7 linked regions of the Homo sapiens genome follow. The protein of the gene in region 1 interacts with the protein of each later gene in a biochemical or structural test. Each region holds a gene or a part of one and is shown in the gene's direction. Other genes may lie near its edges. The genes, in order: AKT1, TRIT1, MEF2D, CTNNB1, TRIM24, CCDC88A and SH3RF1.

Region 1 (3,500 bases):
CCGGGATGCTGGGACCCAGGATGAGGTGCTCTGGGCTCTCGAGAAAGGGCTGGGCCTAGGCCAGGAGTGGGTGCCGGCCGCAGGGGCACCACCTGGACTCCCTCAGGCTGGTCGCTGTCCGAGAGGGGCCGGGGAAGAGCTGCAGGCCTGGCTGCCTTCGGCAGGCTGTGACCCAGCAGGCCAAGGCCGAGTGGGCGGGGGTCGAGGGAAGCTGCCTGGGGCGCGTGGGTTACGCGGCAGACGCTCCTGAGTGTGTGGGCAGCGTGTCCAAGCCACGGATCTGGGTGCCTGGCCGGGCCCGGGTGACACGGGACCGTGTGTCCATGCGGCTCACGGAGGGTCCAGTCTCCGGACATCTGAGTCCTTGCCATGCCCTACCCCGGGCCCATGCCTGGCATAGACCCCCCAGTCCAGGCCTCAGGGCAGCCCCCTCACCACTCCTGCTGAGTTAGCCCCAGGCGTCCCGGTGGGGAGTATGGAGGCTGGTCTCTGACCCCAAGCAGGTGCCTAGGCTGGGCCTCCTTCCCACCCCCTCTCCCCGCCTTGAAGTCCTGGCACTGGCTGTCCCTGCGGGGGGGCACTGAGGCAGGGAGAGAGTGGTTCCTACCCCAGTGTGTTACTTCGCTTTGGTGAGCGACATAGAACCTCACTGCATCCCCAGCTGCTGCTCAGCCATCCAGCTGGTCCTGGGGTCCCTGCGTGAGGTGGGGGACCTCAGAGGGTACAGGCCACTCCCCTTCATCCTGGAGGAGGCCTTGGCTTTGCTGAGTAAACACCCTTGAGAAGAGGTCTGTGGGGGACTCTGAGCCCACTCCAGAGAGCAGCTGCTGCGGAGGGCCCCGCAGGGCTAATTGTTTGTGTGCAGATGGAGGCTGCTCATTACCCCGCCAGGATGAGGGGCCCAGCAGGACCCTGAGGGAGGGAGCCCGCAGACTCTCCCCTCAGCCTGTGGGAACCTTTGGGCTCCAGGCCAGGGCTGCCTGTGCCTCCTGGGCCTCAGTTTTTCCCAGGCTGTCAGGTGAGGGTCAACCCCAGGCTGCGTCTAGGTGGCTTCAGTGTGAGACCCGCGGGCCCTGGGCTGGTTAGTGCCAAGCTCTGCCTCCCCTGGGGGAGCGTTGAGGGTCTGGAACGGCCCCCGTGGGCAGGCCAGGGACAGAGATGGGGAGGCAAGTGTGCTGGCTCCTGGTGGGAGGGCTGGGCAGAGAGTGGGGGTCCCAACAGCCCTGGGCCTACCCGGGAGAGGGGCAGGAGGCACAGGCTGGTGGAGGTCATGGCATGGCTGTGGTGGAGGCCGCCAGCATCAGGGAGGTTCCTGTTTTGGGAGCTTGTTGAGTTCTCACTTCAAAAACAACAAAAGAGGAAGCCGAGGTGGCCTTGAGTGGGGGTGAGGGGTCACTGCTGGCCCCAGCCCTGGACCTTAGCCCCCACGCCTGGTGGCTCCTGAGTGGACAGCTCTTCTTCCTGTGTGTTTCTTGGTCACTGGCCCTCTCTGGGCAGGGATGCCCTGTGGGGGGCTGGACTCCGGGAAGGGAAACTGAGGCCCAGGAGAGTGGACAGAATGTGGGTGGAATGATTCCTGTGCTGGGGCCTAGACCCCCGTACACCTTCCACTCTCAGGAGAAGCCTGGCCGGGTTGCATCAGGCCGGGTTCCTAGAAGTCCTGCACGAGGCTGAGCGGAGGGAACTGGCGCGGCCCCCGCTGGCGTCCCCTCTGCCTGGGCACACCCGGCCCGGCTTGGGGCCAGCACCCTGCCCTCGGGCCCTCCCATAGCTGAGACTGGTGGCTGTGGCTGTGGCTCTGGGCCTGCTCCCCAGGCCACCCTGGGTGGGCAGCTGCCTGCTGCTTCTGTCTGCTTGGACCATTGTGCCTAGTCCCATGGCCTCAGGAGAAGGTTCCCCCAGCCCAGCGCTGGGGCCCCGGGCAGGTTGGCAGAGGGCCCTGGGGCTCCAGGCCAGGATGGGGCTGTTAGGCGAACCCTAGGCCCCTTACTTCCTCATCTCCAACGGGAGTTCCCTTCCCTGCCATGCCGCCTTTAGGTGTGTTTTCCTTGAACCTTAAGGAATGATAGGTTTGGATTTCAGAAACGTTGGAATTGAGGGGGTTGGGAGTTCATGGGTGACTCTGCTGCCAATGTTGCGGGCTTTGGGGTGGGATCCTTGGGGCGCTGTGTTTGGGCTCACACACCCCCCAGGCGGGCCCGGTGACTGCAGACCCCACCCATACCCTGTAACCTGGCGGGCCCACCTGCCCAGGCCCTCAGCTGGTTGTCCAGCTCAGGGGTGGAGACACCCCCTGGGCAGGCCTGGCGGGGAGGTGGCTGCTCCCTGGGCCTGGAGAATGCAGAGAGGCCCTTCGGCTGGCCAGGGTCTGGCTGGCCTCCCCACAGACTGGGGCCAGGGGCACAGCAGCCAGGTGTAGGGCGCGGAGACGCTGAGCTGCACAAGCTTGGTGAGGTGTGGGGTGAGGCCACGGGGGTCAGGGCCACAATGTCCCAGCAGGCCGGGGGATCAGAAGGAGCACCCTCCACAGCTGGCCGTGCTCTGGGGGCCCTCCTGCCCCAGGCGTGGCTCCAAGTTGGGGCAGAAACAAGATGGTGGGGAGATGGAAGGCCCCTCTGTGGCGGGTGCTTCCCATGGTCGGTGTGGAGGACGAGGTCCCTACTGCCTGGTTCCAGTTCCCCCAGCAATGCAGGGCACTTTTCCTGGGGTGTCAGGGATTGAGAGGCCAGCACTGGAGCCCTTCAACCGCCAGGGGCCCTGCCCAAGAGAGACGGGAGGAGGGAGGGGCTGTGGGCATGGCTGCGTGCCCCCGGCCGAGCCCCGGAAGGAGCCTGTGCCCGTGCCCACTTCCTTTCCCGAGGGCAGTGTCTACACGTGGGACACTGTGGCCAGCCCTCCCTCGCAGCAGGCACTGTGTGCTGTCCCCATGCCCAGCTTCCTCCCACGCAGGGAGCGAGGGTGAGGGCCCTGGGAACCCACTGGGTGGAGGGCACTTGGCAAAGCCTGCTGCAAGTTATGGGGAGAGTGGGCGGGGGCAGAGTAGGAGGCGCCAGGGAGGGGCTGCAGCCTCATCTGCAGGGGTCCTGAGTAGGCAGGGTGGGCCATGACATGGGTGGGGCTTGTTTGGGGCAGACCAAAAATGAGGTGGGGGACAGGGACAGGGACAGGGTCTTGGGATGTGCTGGGCTCTGCGATGGATGGGTGTGTGGCAGGTGGGGTGCCTTTGCCGGCCCGAGGGGTGGGTGACGGGCAGTGCCTGTGGGGGAGGACATCCAGGCCCAGGTGGTCTGTCAGGGGCAGCACCAGGGAGGCCCAGTACCCCACCCAGTAGAGCCCCAGGAGAATGGAAAGCTGAGACCCAGGTGCTTCCCTGGAGTGGCAGGAAGAGAGGCCCCAGCGCCTCCGGCTGTGCCTCAGCGAGGTGGACGGGGTCATGGTGGTGCCGCCTGCCCGCACCATGTTCCTCCCGGGGTGTGTGTGTCGGGCTGAGGCCTGCTCCA
Region 2 (3,500 bases), on another chromosome or scaffold:
GGATTTTGCTATGTTGACAAGCTGGTCTTGAACCCCTGGGCTCAAGTGGTCCTACTGCCTCGGCCTCCCAAAGTGCTGGAATTACAAGTGTGAGCCACCACGCCTGGCCCCAATCAGCCTTCTTGATTCGACAGGTGAAGGTACTAGATACTGAGGCCCAAAGAGTAGAAGGGTGTTTGCTCAATATCACAGTCATTTCATGGCTTGCACAAATAAGTTAAACCTTTTCCCGTGAAGTATGTCCTATCCCATCTTCTTTCCTCTTTCCACTCTCTCCTCTTCTGGAATCTTAACATTTTTCCCTTCCCCTTTTCATTTCTTTGCTCACTTTCCCTTTGTTAATCATACTACAGGTTGAACATCTGAAAATCTAAAATCCAAAATACTCCAAAATCTGAAACTTTTGGAGTGCTGAGATGATGCTCAAAGGAAATGCTCATTGGAGCATTTCAGTTTTCAGATTTTCAGGTTTGGGATGCTCAACCAGTAAGTATAATGCAAATAATTCAAAATCTGAAACATTTCCTTGGTCCCAAGTATTTTGGATAAGGGATATTTAACTTGTGTATAATTGACATTTTATCTTACTGTGGAAATTGTATGCTCCCTATACTTAATTTAAAGGGGGAAATAGAGAATTTGTTTTCTCTTTTTAAAGCAAACAGTGTTTTTTCTTTATGATCCTTGATTGGTAACATCTTTCTTCCCACCCTGCCTTAGCCGCTTAAGGGTTAGTGGGATTCTAGTAGAAAAGAGGTGGTCTGTCTCTATGCCTGCAGATTGGCTGGCAAGGAGAAATGTGTAAATGATTATTTACCTGGATATTGAAAGTCTTTTAAAAAAAGTTATTTTCGGCCAGGCACGATGGCTATCGCCTGTAACCTCAGCACTTTGGGATGCTGCAGTGGATGGATTGCTTGAGCTCAGGAGTTCAAGATCAGCCTGGGCAAGTAACATCGTGAAACCTTACCTCTACAAAAAATACAAAAATTAGCCAGATGTGGTGGCATGTGCTTGTAGTCCCAGCTACTTGGTGGCGGGAGCTGAGGTGGGAGGATGACTCGAGCCCTGGGAGGTTGAGGCTGCAGTGAACTGTTTTCGCGCCACTACACTCCAGTCTTGGTGACAGAGTGAGACCCTGTCTCAAAAAAAAAAATTATTCTCAGGAGCAAAGGCCGCCTTAAAGCAGATAATTATCTGTTCAACGGAGATTCTAAAGAGAAAAATTTAAAGTAGCAGAGATGAAAAAACAATAGTGGCTATAGTAAATTGAGTGCTTACTATTTTTTAGGCATTGTGATAGGGGATTTCTATGAATTGTCACATTTAAGGCTCATGGGGATTTTTACAGGTGAGAAAACTGAAACTCAGACAGGCTGAGTAATTGTCCAAGAGCTGAACCTGGAAATTGAAGTCTATTTATCTTCAGAACCTGTGCATCTCACTTAATTTGGTCAAGCCTCAAGTGGCAAAATGTGATAGTCTCTCCATGATGGTAGAGACTGACTAAGTCTAAGAACCTTAGAGAAACCAGCTTGTGTTTTGCCTTAGAAGGCAAAGTCATGCAATGGATGTCACCTTGATGGCCTCCTGAGCAGCTGACACTTGGTTCTGTGAGAGTCCTTGGGCTTGTGCTTATTGAACTGATTTGGAATACTAATAAAACTTTGACTTTTAGCAGCAAGACCTAGAAAGTTCTAGAACTGGAAGGAATTACCACTATGCATTTGTCTCTGGTTTCTGCAAGTCCCTCCAGAACTGATTGGACATGATTCTGGAAATTTGTTGGAAACACTGAGGGCTGGTATCAACGCATTTTGGTTCCCACCCTTTCTCCTCTGCTCTGCAGATAAATGAATGTGGTTTCTTGCTAATGGTGTCCTTCCAAAGTGAGTCAGGATTCTCTTGATATCGTGATATCTTTCTTAATGTTCACATTGAAGATATATTTGCCCGAGACAAAATTCCTATTGTTGTGGGAGGAACCAATTATTACATTGAATCTCTGCTCTGGAAAGTTCTTGTCAATACCAAGGTAAGTTTAGTTCACTCGTAACTCACTGAGGAAATGGATTGCTCTTTCTTGCTGTCTAATTTCAGTGGGAGAAAGGTTGACTCTTGCCTATTTCTTATACCCAGCAACTATAATTTTCCTACTTAATATTCTCAAGCAAATGCCACCTCCATGTGTGAAGTGTGTTCCTCCAGGCTGGTCTATGGGAAGGGGCTCTGTGTGGGAAAAATGTTGCTGTGTGGATTAATTAGCATCTCCATATAAATTAACAGTTCATTAGGCCAGGCGTGGTGGCTCACACCTGTAATCCCAGCACTTTGGGAGGCCAAGGTGGGTGGCTCACCTGAGGTCAGGAGTTCGAGACCAGCCTGGCCAACATGGTGAAACCCCATCTCTACTAAACCCCGTCTCTACTAAAAATACAAAAATTAGCCAGGCATGGTGGCACGCACCTGTAATCCCAGCTACTAGGGAGGCTGAGGTGGGAGGATCACTTGAGGCTTGAGGCGGAGGTTGCAGTGAGCTGAGATTGCGCCACTGTACTCCAGCCTGGGCAACAGAGCGAGACCCTGTCTCAAAAAAAAAAACAGATGCGATTCAAGAAAAAAATATGTATAATTCTTTAGAAAAATTATATTAAAAAAAACCCAGTACGTTAGCCATTAGCCTGATTCAGTATTTCCTGGCTGGCAGCACAGTATGTATATTAGGGAGATGTCCAACACTGACCTTATTTACGTAGGTGCTACTATGTAGGGTAAGACTGTGTAAACTGTAATTCACTGGCAATCCTGGTCTCCTTGTTCACCCTTGCTGAGAAGACTAGACTCCTGGATATGCTAAAATAGACATATTAGCCCTGGTACCTGTTTGAACTTCTGACAGGGAAGCAAATAGCCAGGTGTTTCCCTATGCTGTAAGTCTTCTGTCTTTTTTGTTTGCTGTGGCCTCATAGCACTTACCACAGCATATTGGAATTTTCTGTTTATGATCTCTCACTATATGGCAAGATCTTCTGATTATTCTGTATTCCTGACAGTTAGCAAAGTGCCTGGCACATACACTGTCTCAGTGTTGGTTGAATTAAATATACTTCTAAACCATCATTTAATAGCCCCAGGAGATGGGCACTGAGAAAGTGATTGACCGAAAAGTGGAGCTTGAAAAGGAGGATGGTCTTGTACTTCACAAACGCCTAAGCCAGGTGGACCCAGAAATGGCTGCCAAGCTGCATCCACATGACAAACGCAAAGTGGCCAGGTAAGAAAGCCTGGCGCGCTGACCCCAAATTCCTTTACAACTAGAGAGCAGTCAGTTCTTCAGTTTGCCCAGATGATGAGAGAGATTTGGTAATAGCAGTTAGTGGAGATTGATGTGTTGTTCTAGCTCAGCAGGTTGGGAGGCCCTGAGTTATTGCTTCAGTTCAACTCCCTCAATAAATAATTGCAGCCTACTTTGTTACATTTTAAATGCATAGTACAATATC
Region 3 (4,226 bases), on another chromosome or scaffold:
GCTCACGCCTGTAATCCTAGCACTTTGGAAGGCCGAGGCGGGCGGATTGCTTGAGCTCAGGAGTTCGAGACCAGCCTGGGTAACACGGTGAAATCCCATCTCCACTAAAACACAAAAAATTAGCCGGGCGTGGGGGCGTGCGCCTGTCGTCCCAGCTATTCGGGAGGCGGGAGGGGAGGCGAGGCAGGAGAATCGCTTGAACCTGGGAGGCGGAAGTTGCAGTGAGCCAAGATCGCGCCACTGCACTCCAGCCTGGGCGACGAAGAAAGACTCCGTCTCAAAAAAAAAAAAAAAAAAATTCGGGGTGTGTGAAGAACTGAGTGAGTGCCCTTCTGTTCTGCAAGGTTCTTTGAGATCTAAGCCAGATGCCATCATTTCCTTACGCTCTTGGGAGAAAGCAGCAGGACTTGGAAGTAACAGGGATGCTGAAGCCTGACGGGTCAGTTGTCCAGTAGGCATGGCACCCACACTCCTGTTGTAGGGCACGTAAATATTCACCACACCCTGGAGCAACCAGGAATATAAAAATAAAAAATTTTAAAGAGCTACTACTGCTTCTTTAATAAGACATTTCTGGGTGTTTACTGTGCGGCGGGAGGTGGGGAGGAATTAGGGTCCCGCCCCTTTAAATTGCCCCCTCGGCAGTAAGTGCTGTGGGGCCCCGCAAGCACTGGAGATTAGGTCACCCAAGAACTATGAGCTGTCGCTTTAAATTGCTGGGCGTCTGCCGAGCCGGGCCCTGGGACCGGAGGGGGCCTGTCACAGGTAGAGGGAGCAACTGAGCTCCCTAGGTAACACCCCCCAACCCCAAGAATGTCGCCCGTGAGTGGGGCTTTGTCACACACCAAGTGGGGGAGATGGGAGCTTTTCACCACTTCCAGTCTCCCCTTAATTTATCTACTTAGACTCCCACCTCCCAACTCTCCTGGGGCCCGGGGCCGCGAGGAGGTGCCGAGGTGGCGCGTGTTGAGAGTGTGCGTGCAGCTCGCACGGCCTCCCCGGAAAGGACCTCCTGGAGCACGCGGTGGCAGCAGCGCCAGGCGGGCGGGCGGGCGGCCGGCGTGCTCCGAGGGGCACCGTGGGAGCGGACCGATCCCTTTAAAGGCCTCTGGGTCTCGCCTCCCTACTTTGCCTCGCTTCGTCCCTTCCTCCCTCCCTCCCGGCAGGCGGAGGGATCCGCCGCTCCCAGCGCCGCAGCCTAGCTTGGGAGGGCGGTGGGGTGGGGGCCGACCCGGCCTGGCCCGGCCAGCCCTGGGGAAGCGAGGGGCGGGGCCGCGTCCTCGGGACCGCCCCAGCCCCGGCTCCGCCCCGCCACCCCCACAGGTGCCTCCCATTGGCCCCCACGCCTGTCCGTCACCCCTTTCCCCCCACCCCTCAAGCTAGGCTGAGCTGTGCCTACGTCGGCCTCGACTCCCGGGGGCTGGAGGAGTTACCTTTGGAGCCCGAAAGGAGGAAGGAAGCAAAATATCAACAACAGCCGAGGCGGCTCAGGCGCTCGGCCCCGGTTCCCCGCTTGCCTGCCGCCCGCCTGCTGGCCCCCGCGCCCACGACGGGGGCCCAGGCCTCACGGCGCCGCCCAGGGCCCGCGCGGACGCCGGCCTCATTTATTATTCTCCCCGCCCGGAGCTGCGGCTTCCCGGTGTTGAAGATCCCCCGGACCAGGGGCGAGGGCTACCCGCTCTTTGCCGTGACAACACCGTTCCCCCAGCCGGGCTGGTGAGTAGAGAAAAATAATGCGCCTGCCACTTTAAGAGGCCCCCTCCCCCACCCGGTCCAGGGGTTGGGGTGGAGGGTGGTCTAGACCGTCCCCCTGAGGGGTGGGATGGGGCAGCCCCCGGGCCGGGAGGAACTCGCGAAGCGGGCCGTGTTTTCGTGTGGCGTTGGCGGGGATTACCTAGGGGACTGTTTGTGTCAGGGAGTCTGTCGTGGGGGACAAGTGGAGTGGGCTGCAATTCCCTTGGGTGTTGGGAGTACGGGGTGGGGACGGGCGGATTGGGGGCGCGCCCGCCTGTTCGTGTAGGGGGTTTACGACGGCCTCCGAGCGGTCTGGGACGGGGCGCCATCCTCCGAGGGGGTCTCCGGTGACAGTCGGGAGCGACTGACATTTTAACAGCCGGCCCTCCCTCCCTCTCCCTCCTCTCGCCGCCTGTTCCCTCCTCCTTGGCCCGAAATGGTGCAGAAGGGGGCCTGGGAGGGCGGCGGGAGGGTGGAGGCGGGGGGAGCCGCAGCTGTTTGGGAAGCGGGGGAGGGAGGGGGGATGTTGTTCAGATGACACCGGGGTAGTGGGTTGGGGTGTGTGAGTGTGTGTGTCTCCGGGGCCCGTGTTTGCCGGGTGCCTGTGGAGTTGGGACGCGGAGTCGCCACGAGGTGGGCACGCAGGACCCTTCCTTGAGACCTCCTAGCCCCGCTTCCGAGACCCCTGATGTGGTTTGTCAGTAACCCCAACTGGAGAACTCCCTGGCCAGAAGTTTGCAGCTGTTCAACATCTGGGCAAGAGTTCTCTAGTCCTTTCCACCTATGGCAGGCGGAGCTGGGCTGCGAGCGGGGGTTTAGGGAGTTTGGGGGGGCTTTTGGGAGGATGGGCCAAGGAGACCAAAATGCTTTTAGTCCCCCACTCCAATGCCAGCTTCTCTCCTACCAGGTTCGGGTCTTAGGGGGATGGGGAAAGGGGCCCCCTCCCCCTAGTGAATCACGCTGTCCTCTCAGCAGCCTTCCGAGGACTCCTCCTGAAAGGAAGGCACTCTAGAAGCCACCGACCGGGTTATCCCAGGTTTGCCCTTCTGAATGGGAGCCTCCCTCTGCCTCCCATTGCTTGGTGCATTGTTGATGGGTTGGGGGAGGGTATAGCGGGTTGGGGGGGATCCTGTGTCCCTCTTTGCTGTGCCCAACCCCCATTTGAGTTTTCCTCAGAGTCCTGGTTTCTTTGCTTTGGGGTGGAGGTGGCCCTTATCCACTCCTCCTCCTATCCCTTCAGTGGGTCTCCGCAGCAATTCAGGGTCCAGCCTAGACTATGGGAAGTTTGCCGTCTGGGGCGGTGACCTTGGGCTGCTCTGGCCTGGAGATAGGAGGGGAGCGCAGGTCAGCCTGAGATTGGGTGTTTTGGCGTTTGGGAGCTGTCCACCTCCCACTCCTCTCCCAACCCCAACAGGAAGGTCTCAGTAGCTGAGGAGAGCATTGAAAAGGCACATGTCAGTGTTCACAGATGTCCACCCGCTTGTGGCCACGGGGTCACACCCGCCCCAGGACTTAGTCTGGCTGTCCCAGCTCCCACGGCCCTGCCTGGGAATGAATTTCCTTCCTGTGGTTTCCCAGTGTGTTGGGCAGGAGATGGGGGTGGGGTAGGACTATTGTGGGAGTGGCTGAGGACCTCTTTATACGGGGTGATTGGGGGACACTGGAGCTTATATGGAGCTCCTTCCCCACTTGCCCCAGCATAGGCATTTGGACCTTTGGGTCTCAGTGATTATATTCTCTTTGTTGTAACTCCCCTGCCCCCGCCAACACACCCTGTATGTTTGCATATGTGTGTATATGTATGTGTGTGCATGTACATTTGTAAAGGGAGAGGTCTCTGGTCTCTCTGGGGGGAAGGGGGGGAGGGGGGAAGGGAGGAAGGGAGGAGCTTTTACTCACCCCTGTAGGGACCCAAAAGGTTGAGTTTTTTACCTGAGATCACACAGCAAATCTGTGTCAGAGCTTTCGTCTTTCCACTCTTTTAGGCACAACTTCATAGTAGGGAGGGATTCTGGGAAGGGAGACATACAGTCCGTGTTCATGGAAGCCCCAGTCCAAGGGAAGAAGCAGGACCCAGAGAGCCTCATGATCCTTGTGTTGGGGGATGGGCATGGGGAATTGGCTAGAGCTTCTGTCTGCTGTACTCAATGCCTGAAAGATTGGTGGAGGACTTGGAGGGGTGGCAGGTGCTGTCCGTGTCCACCCCACTCTGTGCTTGGTGCCCCTGGGCTGGAGGGCCTGGGCATCCTGGCTCTGCCCCCTTGGCTCCTGGTTCTTCTCATAGGCTGGGAGATATGATAGTCTTTCTGGCTGCTGTTATATAATCTCTCTGTAGCAGGGTTTTTTTTTTTTTTTTTTTTTTTTTTAATCTTTCCTGGGAGATGTGATAGGGAAGAGAAGCCAGAGGGAGACTCTTCAGGTTGGGGGGAGCTAAAGGAGCAGTAGTAAGGAAGCTTGGAGTGGGAGGTGCCTTGGCCCCCGAGGAGGCCTTG
Region 4 (3,500 bases), on another chromosome or scaffold:
GAATTTGAGTGGAATGCTTTAAAAGGACAAGTTGGATAGGGCCCCAGTATGGGGGTCTGAGTGATGGGGTCCAGGAATACATTTAGGTCCAATGGCAAGCTGGCTGAAATTCTTGTATAATAAAATAGGTTGGTAATATGGCTCTTCTCAGACATGTGATCAAGATTCCTTGACTAACAAGATATATATATATATCTTTCTAGCTCATCATACTGGCTAGTGGTGGACCCCAAGCTTTAGTAAATATAATGAGGACCTATACTTACGAAAAACTACTGTGGACCACAAGCAGAGTGCTGAAGGTGCTATCTGTCTGCTCTAGTAATAAGCCGGCTATTGTAGAAGCTGGTAAGTATATGTATCTATTCTGAGTCTTGTGTATAGCATCTGCAGTTCTAATTAGATTACTTTTCTTAGGAAAAGGTGGTAGAACTTTAACTACTGAAAATAAATGGTCCTATTCAGTTTGCAGCCAAGATTTACATTCAGAGTACCTGTCATCTGGATTGTAGCTAAATATTTAAGGCTAGTTTAGGTAGAGTTCTTATTATCCATCAAAAATGATGGCATATGTTTTGCTTAATAAAATTTGTTTGTAATTTCAGTTTTGAGTAAACCTAAGATTTGCTAACAGAGCTGTGAATTTATAGGAGAAAAGACAAATTCTAATATAGTACAGTTTTATGTAAAGTGATTGCTTTATTAGTAGATGCTCATGAGCAGTTTTTGTTTTGTTTTAACTTTTAGGTTCCGGGTAATGTGCAGGCTTGTTATATAGGTAAATTGCATGTCACAGGGGTTTCGTGTGCAGATTATTTTGTCACCCAGGCAGTAAGTATTGTACCCAATAGGTAGTTTTTCAGTTCTTTACCTCCCACCCGTAAGTAGGCCCCAGTGTCTGTTGTTCCCTTCTTTGTGCCCGTGTGTACTCAGTGTTTACCTCCCACTTATAAGTGAGAACATGTGGTATTTGGTTTTCTATTCCTATGTTAGTTTGCTTAGGATAATGGCCTCCAGCTCCATCCATGTTGCTGAGGAAGACATCTTGGTATTTTTTTATGGCTGCTTAGTATTCCATAGTATATATGTACCACATTTTCTTTATCTAGTCTACCATTGATGGGCATTTAGGTTAATTCCATATCTTTGCTATTGTGAATAATGCTGCAGTGAACATATGCATGCATGTGTCTTTATGGTAAAAAGATTTCTTTTTCTTTGGGCATATACCTAATAATAGGATTGCTGGATTGAATGGTAATTCTGTCAGGTTTTTTGAGAAATCACCAAATTGCTTTCCACAATGGCTGAACTAATTTACTTTCCCACCAGCAGTGTATAAGCATTCTCTTTTCTCAGCAACCTCACCAGCATCTGTCATTTTTTGACTTTTTATTAGTAGCCATTCTAACTGGTGTGAGACGGTATCTCATTGTGGTTTTGATTTGCATTTCTCTAATGATCAGTGATGTCGAGCTTTTCTTCATATGTTTCTTGGCCACTTGTATGTCTTCTTTTGAAAAGTGTCTGTTCATGTCCTTTGCCCACTTTTTAATGGGGTTGTTCTTTTTTGCTTGTTAATTTAAGTTTATTGTAAACTCTGGATATTAGACCTTTGTCAGATGCATAGTTTGCCAGTACTTTCTCCCATGCCAGTACTTTCTCCCATTCTGTAGGTTGTCTGTTTACTCTGTTGATTTCTTTTGCTGCGCAGAAGCTCTTTATACTGTCCCATTTGTCAGTTTTTGTTTTTGTTGCAACTTCTCTTGGCATCTTCGTCATGAAATCTTTGCCAGGTCTTATGTCCAGAATGGTATTTCCTAGGTTATCTTGCAGAGTTTTTACAGTTTTAAGTTTTATATTTAAGTCTTTAATCCATTCTGAGTTGATTTTTGTACATCATGTAAGGATGGGGTGCAGTTTCAATCTTGGATGTGGCTAGCCAGTTATCCCAGCACCATTTATTGAATAGGGAGTCCTTTCCCCATTGCTTGTTTTTGTTTACTTGTTAGGTGTGCGGCCTAACTTCTGGGCTTTCTTTTCTGTTCCATTGGTCTCTGTGTCTGTTTGTATACCAGTACCATGCTGTGATTGTAACCTTGTATTAACAGTATAGCTTGAAGTTGGGTAAAGTGATTCCTCCAGTTTTGTTCTTTTTGCTTAGGATTGCCTTGGCTATTCAGGCTCTTTTTTGGGTTCATATGAATTTTTAAATAGTTTTTTTTTAATTATGTGAAGAATGCCATTGGTAGTTTGGTAGGAATAGCATTGAATCTGTGAATTGCTTTGGGCTGTATGGCCATTTTAACAATATTGATTCTTCCTGCCATGAAATAGAATGTTTTTTCATTTGTTGGTGTCATCTCTGATTTCTTTGAGCAGTGTTTTTTGTAATTCTCATTGTAGAGATCTTTCACCTCCCTGGTTAGTTGTATTCCTAGGTATTTTATTCTTTTTGTGGCTTTGGTAAATGGGATTGCATTCTTGATTTGGCTTGCAGCTTGGATGTTGTTGGTGTCTAGAAATGCTTCTGACTTTTGTACATTGATTTTTATATCCTGAAACTTTGCTGAAGTTTATTGGATCAAGGAGCTTTTGGGCAGAGATTATGGGGTTTTCTAGGTATAGAATCATATTGTTTGCAAACAGACTTCCTATTTGGATGCATTTTCTTTCTCTTGCCTGATTATGAGCAGTGTTTTGCCCTGATATTCTGTATTCTCAGTGAATAGATGTCGTCTAAGTATGAGAAACAATTTTTTTCTATTCTGAGTATTTTTAAGAAGGCAACTTATATGTGGTACTTTGTATATTGTGTATGTTGGCAATTGGGGAAAAGAATAGATGGTTTGTACTAGGGCCTCTTGGGTTCTGTGTGTGTGTGTGTGTGTGTGTGTGTGTGTCATGAAAACAGTTACTTTTTAGCTACCAAGCATTTTTTCTCCTTTCAGTAACCCACCTAACAACATTTACTCAGAATTTCAAAGCAAGCTTCAAATCAGTATTGAAAGAAGGAAAAATATAAAGGCATTTAATGGAAGAAAATGTTGGGAATAAAGTATAGGGCTGGCAACACTTACTTTTCTCACTTATTGAGAGTAATTTTACTTGGGAATTTATGAGAGAGAAAGACATTATGATTGCTCCAGGTAACTACTGGCAGAGGAACCATAGTCTTGGGGATAGACAAATGTGGCTGAGTTCATATAGAATGAGGGGATGGGATGTAAATTCTGTCAGCTGTTCCAGCAGTAACCTGTAATGTAGGCTAAAAATACAGATTTTGAGATTTATTTAATCAGAATCCCTGGAGTGTTAATTTTTATATCAAGATCTCATAGTGTTTTATTTGAAGTGACAGGGAGGTCTGTAGATAGCTGGACATGTATGGGACTGGAAGCTTAGGAATCTTTAAGTTCTTCCAGGTTATTCTTATGTTCATTTGTTTATTCTGAAAATAGCATCTAATGTATTTTAAGAAATGGAATAGGCACATAGTA
Region 5 (3,500 bases), on another chromosome or scaffold:
ACAGGTACTCGCCACCACGCCCAGCTAATTTTTTTTGTATTTTTAGTAGAGACTGGGTTTCACCGTGTTAGCCAGGATGGTCTCAATCTCCTAAACTCGTAAGCCACCGTACCTGGCCTCCTTTTTTTTTTTTTTTTTTTTTTTTTTTTTTAAAGTCTCTCTCTGTCACTCAGGCTAGAGTACAGTGGCATGATCTCAGCTCACTGCAACCTCTGCCTTCCGGGTTCAAGCAATTTTCCTGCCTCAGCCTCCAGAGTAGCTGGGATTACAGGCGCCCACTACCATGCCTGGCTAATTTTTGTATTTTTAGTAGAGACAGGGTTTCACCATGTTGGCCAGGCTAGTCTCGAACTCCTGGCCTCAAGTGATATGCCCGCCTCAGCCTCCCAAAGTGCTGGGATTACAGGTGTGGGCCACCATACCCGGCTGTATTATTTATATACTTAGTGTCTTCAGGTAAAAATATTTTCTGTGTTTTACATTATCTTAAAGTTATCACAGTGTTTTTTCTTCTCAAAGCTCCTATGACAACAGCCTGTCTAGCTGATTGTAGACTGATTTTGGTTTCTCCAAGACCAAAATAAAGATGATGCAATTTTCATAATTCTATAACATCCATTTTAATAAAATCATTTTAATATTTTATTCTAAAAGTATGTACACTCTGTGTCTATACATATCTTCGTATAATCAATTTGCCTTTGCTATATCATCACCAAATTCTCTTAAACAATATTTTAATTATTTAAAATAAAATTCATACCTATTATTTCATCATTAGAAGGAAAGTAAAAAGGACCCAAGCTTCAGTTTGGCCTTAAATTCTACTTATTTTCCTAATAATTTTGTGGCACTTACGTAGTCTTTTCGCATCTCCCTTGCCTCAGCTATAAAATGCGTATCTTGCAGAGTTATGTTGAGAGTTTATTCTAATGTATATACAAGCACCTAGCACATGCTCAGTATTCAAATGTTTACCTCTTCCCTATTTATTGTATTTTAATGAGTAGATACTCTAAGCATGTTTTTTTAAAATGGTTGTTGACCAAAAATGTAAACATGAATGAATAAGTAAAGGAACAAGCCAGGAAAAAATCTACTGGGAAATTGCTTTTAAGTAGTAGATGAGTTTAACAAATTAGAGTATACTCATACAGTGGAATACTTTTCAGATATTAAGAAAATGCAGTAATCTAGATATGATTTTCTGAGTACGTGAGGAAAAGCATGTTATAGAATTTTTGTGAGGTGTTATCTCATTTGTATGTGTGTTTTCCTCCAGCCTCATCATGTACATAGAAAAAAACCTGAAACGATCCACCAACTGATTGTTCTTGGTAGAGGAGGAGGAAAGGGGGCATAGAGGTGGGGAATATGAGGGAGGAGTAGGTGGTAAAGAAGACATTCATGTCCAACTTCATATGTTTCTGTATGTAGTTTCTACAATGGAATATATAAATTAGGTTTTTCAAAATTGGAATGTTTCAGACATTTTATATAGTGCTGTTCATTTGTGAATGACCATGTTTGGAAAATACGGCATCTTGCAGTACACTTAGTTACTTTCCTTCTTCCAGCATGAAAATTTTCAAACATAATAAAAATTGAAAGAATTATATAGGGAACATTTTGTTCTACTTGCCTTATTACATGTTTATCTATTCCTTTGTCCATTCATCAAGTCATCCTTTTTTTTTTTTTTTTTGAGGCAGAATCTCTCTCTCTGTAGCCCAGGCTGGAGTGCACTGGTGCAATCTTGGCTCACTGCAACCTCTGCCTCCTGGGTTCCAGTGATTCTCCTGCCACAGCCTCCCAAGTAGCTGGGATTACAGGTGCCCACCACCACGCCCGGTTAATTTTTGTGTTTTAGTAGAGATGGAGTTTCACCATGTTGGCCAGGGTGGTCTTGAACTCTTGACCTCAAGTTATCCACCCACCTTGGGCTCCCAAAGTGCTGCGATTACAGGCATGAGCCACCATGCCCAGCCCATCATGTTTTTCAATAGGTTTTGAGTAAATTCCAGACAGCAGCATGCTTCACCTCTATATACTTCAGCATGCCTATCATCATCTTAATGTGTTTATCTCAGCAGGAATGATAGTACTTTCCTCAGATATTTATCGAGGCCTAATTATCTGTTCATATATGAGAAGAGGAATATAAAATCCTGAAAGTACCAGTCTGTAGCTTAGTATTTTCAAGTATTTCAGATAGGGATAGAAGAAATGTATGTTTTCAACCCTCCATCTTTACCTTGAAGTTGCTATGTATATATTTACATTTTTTTTCCAATATGTATAAACCTGCCAAGATTGGGTACTGTGATTTTCTGGTATATACTAACTGTTGTCTTCCAGTAAAAATCAGTGCTTTTTACTGTTTTGGTTTTTTTTTTTTTTTGACAAGATTAATGAAAATTATATATACTTGTGCAGTCTTTTGCTGTCCCATTCTCCTTCCATGTAAATTACAGTTGAACTCTTCTACTTCATTTTGTGTGAGTGATTACATAGATGTTGTATTTTATAAGCTTGTTGATAGCCTTTGTTCTTCTCTTCTTGTTACTGTAGTGGCAGATCAGCAGTGGACAGGGAACCCCATCAACTACCAACAGCACATCCTCTACTCCTTCCAGCCCCACGATTACTAGTGCAGCAGGATATGATGGAAAGGCTTTTGGTTCACCTATGATCGATTTGAGCTCACCAGTGGGAGGGTCTTATAATCTTCCCTCTCTTCCGGATGTAAGTAGACACAAAATTTATACTAGCCTCTGTTGAAAACTGTTGGCCGGGTGCAGTGGCTCACTCCTGTAATCCCAGCACTTTGGGAGGCTGAGGCAGACAGATTACTTGAGGTCAGGAGTTCGAGACTAGCCTGGCCAACATGGTGAAACCCCGTCTCTACCAAAAAATACAAAAATTAACCAGGCATGATAGCACACGCCTGTAATCCCAGCTACTTGGGAGGCGGAGGCTGTGGTGAGCTGAGATCATGCCACTGCACTCTAGCCTAACAGAGCGAGACCCTGTCTCAACAAAGAAAGAAAATTGTTAGTGAATTTGGATCTGGTAGAAGGCATGAATTTGTTGGATTATAGGTTGTTTGTTTTTACAAGTTAATTTTAATCCTTTAGAATATTACAACAGTAGTAAAAATAAAAAGATTATGAACATTGGACACATAATCTAATGTCTTTCAAGCCACCGGAGTTAAAGGTGTTTGTAAATGAGTGATTATGGTGATGGATCATGGAATCTAAGCTGGGAAAGGAGAAAAGTAAGGACATGGAAAGATATGCTGGGACGTTGAATGGCTGGACATCAGAAGAGATGAAGACAAGTTTAATAATAGAAATCCTGTTAGATCATACTGACAAGTGCAAAATTACCTCTGGTTTATACTACATGTAAATTAACTCACTCTCCAAACTCTTTGTCAGTATGACTTTTTGTTATTTATTATATTTTTAAATGATTTTTATTTTTAATAGAGATGG
Region 6 (3,500 bases), on another chromosome or scaffold:
TGTCCTCTGACCTACCAAAGAGGGAGAAATGTGGTGGCAACCACACTGTCTTGGATATTACCAAATTTGTTTTCAGCTCTTTAATGTTCATTCTCATTTTATGTTTGAGGAAACTGAGAACTGCATAGATTAATTGACTTATTTTTGAAATATTTATTTATTTGAGACAGGGTCCAGCTCTGTCACTCATGCTGGAGTGCAGTGGCACAATCATAGCTTACTGCAACCTCGAACACCTAGGCTCAAGCAATCCTTTCACCTTAGCTGGGACTACAGGCATGCACCACCATGCCCAGATAATTTTTTAATTTTTTTTTTTATTTTTTGGTAGAGACAAAGTATCACTATGCTCCCCAGGCTGGTCTCAAACCCCTGAGCTGAAGTGATATTCCTGCCTCAGCCTCCCGAAGTGCTAGGATTATAGGTGCCAGCCACCATGCTTGAGCATTAATTTTTTTAGAAGTTAAATTATTTGTTTATATCATCCAGGTACAGTCCTCAGACCAGCCATAAAAATGAAGGTTTCTTTAGAGATACAGAACCAAAATTCTAGACTAAGCTTCAATCTTCATTTTTCCAAGCTTGTTGAGATTATTTAACACACTAAATTTTGAGAATCATTGTATTAGATCACGCTATAAATTGGATGAATTAGTTCCCAAATGTACCCAGTGATTTTTGTGATTTTGATGCTTCCTACTTAGAATTCTTTTTGGGAATGAATACACACACATACAAACCCATATATACACATGTAATACAGCACATATTTACTGAGGACCCACTGTAGGCATTGCAAAGGTTACTTAGTAAAAGTAGAACCTTATGTTCTCAAGGAGGTATGTGTGTGTGTTACCTGTATTCCTATTTGAATTTGAAGCATGTAACTGTAAATAATCTGAAGACCATTATGATTAATAGAAAATACATTTCTCAACCGTTCCTTTAAACTGTGAACTTCCTAAAAACATGAACTTTAATGACCTCACAGTAAGTGTACACAGTGGTCTTCAGTAAATGACCTCACAGTAAGTGTACACAGTGGTCTTCAGTAAATACTTGTCAGAATTAAAAGTAAGACATGTTCTAGCACCCTTTTTTTGTTCCCCTTTTCTTGGTAGTTTTTGGAAGAGATAAACCATAGTTAGTTTTTCCTCAATTACAGCTTTTAATTATTTTCTTTTCAAATTAGATTAAGATACTGGAACAGGAAAATGAACATCTGAATCAAACAGTGTCTTCCTTAAGGCAGCGGTCCCAGATAAGTGCAGAAGCAAGAGTGAAAGACATTGAAAAAGAAAACAAAATTCTTCATGAATCTATCAAAGAAACAAGTAGCAAGCTAAGCAAGATTGAATTTGAAAAAAGACAAATTAAAAAAGAATTGGAACATTATAAAGAAAAAGGAGAACGAGCTGAAGAACTTGAAAATGAATTGCATCATCTTGAAAAAGAAAATGAATTATTACAGAAAAAAATAACTAATTTAAAAATTACTTGTGAAAAAATTGAGGCCTTAGAACAAGAAAATTCAGAGCTAGAAAGAGAAAATAGAAAATTAAAAAAAACATTGGATAGCTTTAAAAATCTGACCTTTCAGTTAGAATCCCTAGAAAAAGAGAATTCCCAACTTGATGAGGAAAACTTAGAACTGCGAAGGAATGTAGAATCTTTGAAGTGTGCAAGCATGAAAATGGCTCAGCTACAGCTAGAAAACAAAGAACTGGAAAGTGAAAAAGAGCAACTTAAGAAGGGTTTGGAGCTCCTGAAAGCATCTTTCAAGAAAACAGAACGCTTAGAAGTTAGCTACCAGGGTTTAGATATAGAAAATCAAAGACTGCAAAAAACTTTAGAGAACAGCAATAAAAAAATCCAGCAATTAGAGAGTGAACTACAAGACTTAGAGATGGAAAATCAAACATTGCAGAAAAACCTAGAAGAACTAAAAATATCTAGCAAAAGACTAGAACAGCTGGAAAAAGAAAATAAATCATTAGAGCAAGAGACTTCTCAACTGGAAAAGGATAAGAAACAATTGGAGAAGGAAAATAAGAGACTCCGACAACAAGCAGAAATTAAAGATACCACATTAGAAGAAAATAATGTGAAGATTGGAAATTTGGAAAAAGAAAACAAAACCCTATCCAAAGAAATTGGTATATATAAAGAATCTTGTGTCCGTCTGAAAGAACTAGAAAAAGAAAATAAGGAGCTTGTGAAAAGAGCAACTATTGATATAAAAACGTTGGTTACACTACGTGAGGTAAATATGTTTACCTAAATTAAGGCAAATTTTTTTTTATATTTTTAACTCAAGGTTTCTTTAAGTTTTATTGGAATCTATCAGTAATTTGCATCATTTATTTTATGGTTCAGTAGAATTTTGGAATTAGAACTAGAAATAGCTTCCAAGTTTCCTACTTTGTTAAACTAAGAAATACCTATAAATTGTATTTTTAAAAGAATTTGTAGTAATAAAGTTTCCTAGTGGTATCTGACTTATTACATTATAATTTTAAACCTTTATTTCAATATAATAATGTTTGATCAAGACACTAAATTCTAAGTATAATAAAGAAGCATGATAGCTACTATTTATTGAGTGCTGTGTGCCAAGTACTGGGCTAAAAACTTCATATAAGTTGTATATACATAAATAATATATACACACACACCCAAATATATATACACACATATATACATGCACATAATCTTTACAACTAATCCTTTATAAGTATTATATCCATTTTTTAGATGAGAAAACTGAGGTTCAGAAACATTAAATAAATTAGGATCACACAGCTAATAAATAGCAGAGTTGGATTACTGGATTCAAATCCAGATTTTTCAGACTCCAAAGCCCCATGAATTTTGACCTCAAAGCCAGAGAATGCAAATCAGGTTCAACCATTCAACACTGAGCAACTAGTATTTGCTTGAATCTATGTATCAAGAAGAATTCTGAAACTTACAGGAGTAAATTGGCAGTATGTCCTGTGAAACATGGTTGATGCAAGTCAGAAGGTATATGTTTGGCTCTTTTTTTCCCATCTCTAAGCATTATAATATGTGATAACCCTTTAAGTTCAATTTAAAAGTATATTAGCATTCTGGCAGAAGGTCACATTGGGCAGTCTGCATTTCTGCTAAAGAAGCATTGAGAGGGACCTTTTATTTTTTTCTTCTGTAGACTTATAAACATGAACAACAAGTTCCTTGTGCCTAAACTTCTAAGAACATCCTCTAGTTCTTCAGATCAGTATCATAGGGCCTCTTTCACTGGGAGAAGGGATCTTGTGGGAGAGAAGTATTATAGTCAACATATATTTATAAGAAGAAATGTGCACTAAAGTTCAGGCTCATTATTAAAAAGTAAATGGATATGATTTTCCCCAGTTTTCAAACCTAAATGTGTATTCACAAGTAAAGAGTTACTACTCCCTTTTAAGGTTTTGTTTAAAGTATTAGCAAAAAAAAGGAAAAAAGTTATTTCAACTAGG
Region 7 (3,099 bases), on another chromosome or scaffold:
CTGGAAGATTTCTAAGTAGAGTCTATTACTCCTGCACCTGGTAGTCTTCATACGATCAAGACTGTGTCACAGTTTCCATTATGCACATAGTTTCTCATTCCACCCGCCCCCCCAGAGGTTTATAAAACTTAGCAATGAAAATTTGCTCCCACTGGGAACTTGGCAGGAAGAGTATGTTCTTAGCCCAGCAGCAGTTCTAGTTCAAAATTTTTTTTTGACAAAATTGGTTTAGTGCATTTTATAAAATGCATATATTAATCTAATTCACTTCAAGTTTTTCAATAACCATTTTTATTCCATTTCACCTTTAAGGCAGCTCACAGAGAACAAGTAGGGAATATATCTCATGAGAAGTCTACTCTGAATATGTTTTGAGTCACTTGTACATTTTTTCCCAGAATTATAAAGCTTTGCCTTAAATGTTTAACTTGCCCCACATGGCAACTACATCATTGCTTTTTCATGGATTTTTAGCATGTTGACATTAGACTTGAGAAATGTCATCTGGATCCTTCTTTCAGATAAATTCATGATGAAATTATTTGTCTTGCTTTTAAAGGTGTCAGAGAGCTGGGCATAGCGGCTTATGTCTATAATCCCAGCACTTTCTGGGGCTGAGGCTGGAAGATTGCTTGAGCCAAGGAGTTCAAGACCAGCCTGGGCAATATAGTGAGATGCCATCCCTACAAAAAGTAAAAAGATTAACCAGGTTTGGTGGCACACACCTGTAGTCCCAGCCGGAAGGCTGAGGTAGGAAGATCAGTTAAGCCTGGGAGGTCAAGGCTACAGTGAGCTGTGATTGCATCACTGCACACCAGCCTGGGCAACAAAGTAAGACCGTCTCAAAATAAAGATATCAAAGAAGGGATTCCAAAACCCTAACTGTGTTGATCTAAAGTTTGTCAAATCTCATTTTCAGGAAATGAGGCCTGAGTTGTGGCCTGAGTTCGTTTCCTAGTTAGAGATGTCCAGCCACTGACTGGCCCATTCTTCACCTCCTTGAAGTGCCAGGCCTCTGCCTACTCTTGTCTAAGCCATATGATCATAATGGGAGCTAATATTTTCAGGTTGAACTCTTTGTCAGACACCATACGAAGAGCATCATACTTGTTTAACTCATTACAGTCCTATTCTACAGATGAGGAAACAGACTGAGAGCTGAGATAACTGGCCCAAAGTTAAGCTGCTCTAACTGACCTTAAAGACTGTGTCAATCCTTAGGCCAGTGTTTCTCCCGCTGTGTCATGCTTCCTTCCTCATTCCATGCTTGATCAAACCCCAGCCTTGTGGTCTATGAATATTCATGTTTGAATTAGCTGAACCTTTCTCAGATATGATAAGCCAACTTCTGTGCTGTGCTTTTGCTTCAGATCTTGGGTAGTAATTTGGTCCCTGTGCCAAAGGAGCTCAGGTTGTTCAAGCAGCCACTTACCTTTTGCAGAGATGTGTTTTTTTAGTGTAATAGTCTGGGACTCTTGCTGTGGTCTTTCTTAAATGGATTTTGGTTTATATGGAATGGGAATTGGTGAAAGGGGCAGGCTGTAATAGGTTTCAGAAGTTTGGGGACAGTTGTATAGAATTTGTTCTGCCTATCATTTTGAAGCCATAATATTTTTCACTTTCAGTCAGGAGTGGGTCCCACGAGGCTATACACTCATTTTCTGACTTTGAGAACCAAATGAAAGTAGAAACCCAAAATCAACTTTATGACTGACTACTCATTACTTAGCATCAAACAGTGAAAGATGTATTTATTAGATATCTGTTGCCATGTAACCAGTTACGCCCAAAAGTCAGTGGCTTAAAACAATAATAAGCATGTATTATTTCACACTTTCTGTGGGTCACATAATTATGGAACAGCTCATCTGGTTGGTTCTGGCTTAGAGTATTTCTTGAGATTGTAGTCAAGACATCAGCCTGAGCTGATGCTCAACTGGGGCTGGAGGATCCCCTTCTAAGATGGCTTATTCACATCACTTTTTCTGGTTAGTTTAGGCTTTTGGAAAGAGGCCTCAGTGCCTTACCATGTGTTTCCTCTCCATAGAGATGTTGAGTGTCCTCACAACATGGCAGCCAGTTTTCCTGAGTGACCGATCCAAGAGAAAGTAAAGTGGAAGCCATAATGCCTTTTATGATCTAGCCTCAGAAATCACCCACTGTCATTTCTGCAACATTTTATTGGCCACACAGGTCATCCTGTGCATCATAGGAGGAGACTACACAAGAGTGTGAATACCAGGAAGCAAGGATCACTAGGGCCATCTTGGAGGTTGGCTACCATACACCACCATTCTTTTCCCCCCTTTTGTTGAGAAGAGGAGTAATGCAAATAATGCTGGAAAAATAGAGAAAGATAAAAGGATATAGAGTGTAAAACAAGTCACCTCCCTCTCGTTTCCTACAAGCTGTAATTCTGCACAGGAAGGCTAAGGAGCATGGAGGCAGGGGCACAGATAATATTAAACCAACTAAGCTTCTGCCATTTTTAAGCGATAATGACACCTTTCCCACTAACTCCAAATTCTGAGCCAAGGAGAAACAGACCCAAATGTCAGAATAATAGAGATGAGAATGTCAACCTCGTTACTGGTAATGTTGGATTGAACTTGTGGCCATAGCCCTCCCCTCCATGTCTGGACCTTGGGACTACCTTCCCAAGGGATAATCTGGGTATGTGGGGCAGATTACCTTCCTCAGAATTGCTGCCTCGCCCATGTCAAACACCAGTGTAAGGGACGTAGGGACACAGAGACAGACTTCCAGACTCACCTTCCTGACCTCTGTGTGCTTACAACATAGAGGTGGAGCAGAGCCTCCTTAGCCTGTGGGCAGGCGGTTCAGAGAGGACTGAACCCCCCCTGCTCAGCTACTTCTCCCAGTCTCACCAATCAAATAAATTCACTCCTGTTTCCTTGGAGAAGAGGGAGGGATAGAAATGATACCCCTCTCGGGAAATGAAATGAAACTCTCCTTTATGGCCAAGATACAAACACTGGTAGGGAACAAGGATGGCTGTCCTTGTTAAGGTCACTCAGATGAACCAGTCTGGGCCATCAGTAGTGGGTTGACACACATATCCAAATCCAGTCTTTGTTA

Evidence for each region.
Region 2: of the proteins of AKT1 (region 1) and TRIT1, one has a biochemical effect on the other in vitro, tested with the Homo sapiens proteins (one large-scale study listed by BioGRID).
Region 3: of the proteins of AKT1 (region 1) and MEF2D, one has a biochemical effect on the other in vitro, tested with the Homo sapiens proteins (one large-scale study listed by BioGRID).
Region 4: of the proteins of AKT1 (region 1) and CTNNB1, one has a biochemical effect on the other in vitro, tested with the Homo sapiens proteins (2 studies listed by BioGRID).
Region 5: of the proteins of AKT1 (region 1) and TRIM24, one has a biochemical effect on the other in vitro, tested with the Homo sapiens proteins (one study listed by BioGRID).
Region 6: the proteins of AKT1 (region 1) and CCDC88A form a complex in vitro, tested with the Homo sapiens proteins (2 studies listed by BioGRID, with this or other methods).
Region 7: of the proteins of AKT1 (region 1) and SH3RF1, one has a biochemical effect on the other in vitro, tested with the Homo sapiens proteins (one study listed by BioGRID and IntAct).

The regions. Positions count from the first base shown.
Region 1 is NC_000014.9:104,785,749-104,789,248, reverse strand, and holds part of AKT1 (RAC-alpha serine/threonine-protein kinase), read left to right. Parts: intron 1-3,500. UniProt on the Homo sapiens protein: AKT1 is one of 3 closely related serine/threonine-protein kinases (AKT1, AKT2 and AKT3) called the AKT kinase, and which regulate many processes including metabolism, proliferation, cell survival, growth and angiogenesis.
Region 2 is NC_000001.11:39,852,505-39,856,004, reverse strand, and holds part of TRIT1 (tRNA dimethylallyltransferase isoform 1 precursor), read left to right. Parts: intron 1-1,936; coding exon 1,937-2,035; intron 2,036-3,053; exon of another isoform or gene 3,054-3,128; coding exon 3,129-3,274; intron 3,275-3,500. UniProt on the Homo sapiens protein: Catalyzes the transfer of a dimethylallyl group onto the adenine at position 37 of both cytosolic and mitochondrial tRNAs, leading to the formation of N6-(dimethylallyl)adenosine (i6A37).
Region 3 is NC_000001.11:156,497,976-156,502,201, reverse strand, and holds the start of MEF2D (myocyte-specific enhancer factor 2D), read left to right. Parts: upstream 1-1,426; 5' UTR 1,427-1,716; intron 1,717-2,321; exon of another isoform or gene 2,322-2,770; intron 2,771-4,101; exon of another isoform or gene 4,102-4,226. UniProt on the Homo sapiens protein: Transcriptional activator which binds specifically to the MEF2 element, 5'-YTA[AT](4)TAR-3', found in numerous muscle-specific, growth factor- and stress-induced genes.
Region 4 is NC_000003.12:41,227,005-41,230,504, forward strand, and holds part of CTNNB1 (catenin beta-1), read left to right. Parts: intron 1-203; coding exon 204-348; intron 349-3,500. UniProt on the Homo sapiens protein: Key downstream component of the canonical Wnt signaling pathway.
Region 5 is NC_000007.14:138,568,259-138,571,758, forward strand, and holds part of TRIM24 (transcription intermediary factor 1-alpha), read left to right. Parts: intron 1-2,571; coding exon 2,572-2,745; intron 2,746-3,500. UniProt on the Homo sapiens protein: Transcriptional coactivator that interacts with numerous nuclear receptors and coactivators and modulates the transcription of target genes.
Region 6 is NC_000002.12:55,332,857-55,336,356, reverse strand, and holds part of CCDC88A (girdin), read left to right. Parts: intron 1-1,192; coding exon 1,193-2,263; intron 2,264-3,500. UniProt on the Homo sapiens protein: Bifunctional modulator of guanine nucleotide-binding proteins (G proteins). Acts as a non-receptor guanine nucleotide exchange factor which binds to and activates guanine nucleotide-binding protein G(i) alpha subunits.
Region 7 is NC_000004.12:169,096,858-169,099,956, reverse strand, and holds part of SH3RF1 (E3 ubiquitin-protein ligase SH3RF1), read left to right. Parts: intron 1-3,099. UniProt on the Homo sapiens protein: Has E3 ubiquitin-protein ligase activity. In the absence of an external substrate, it can catalyze self-ubiquitination. Stimulates ubiquitination of potassium channel KCNJ1, enhancing it's dynamin-dependent and clathrin-independent endocytosis.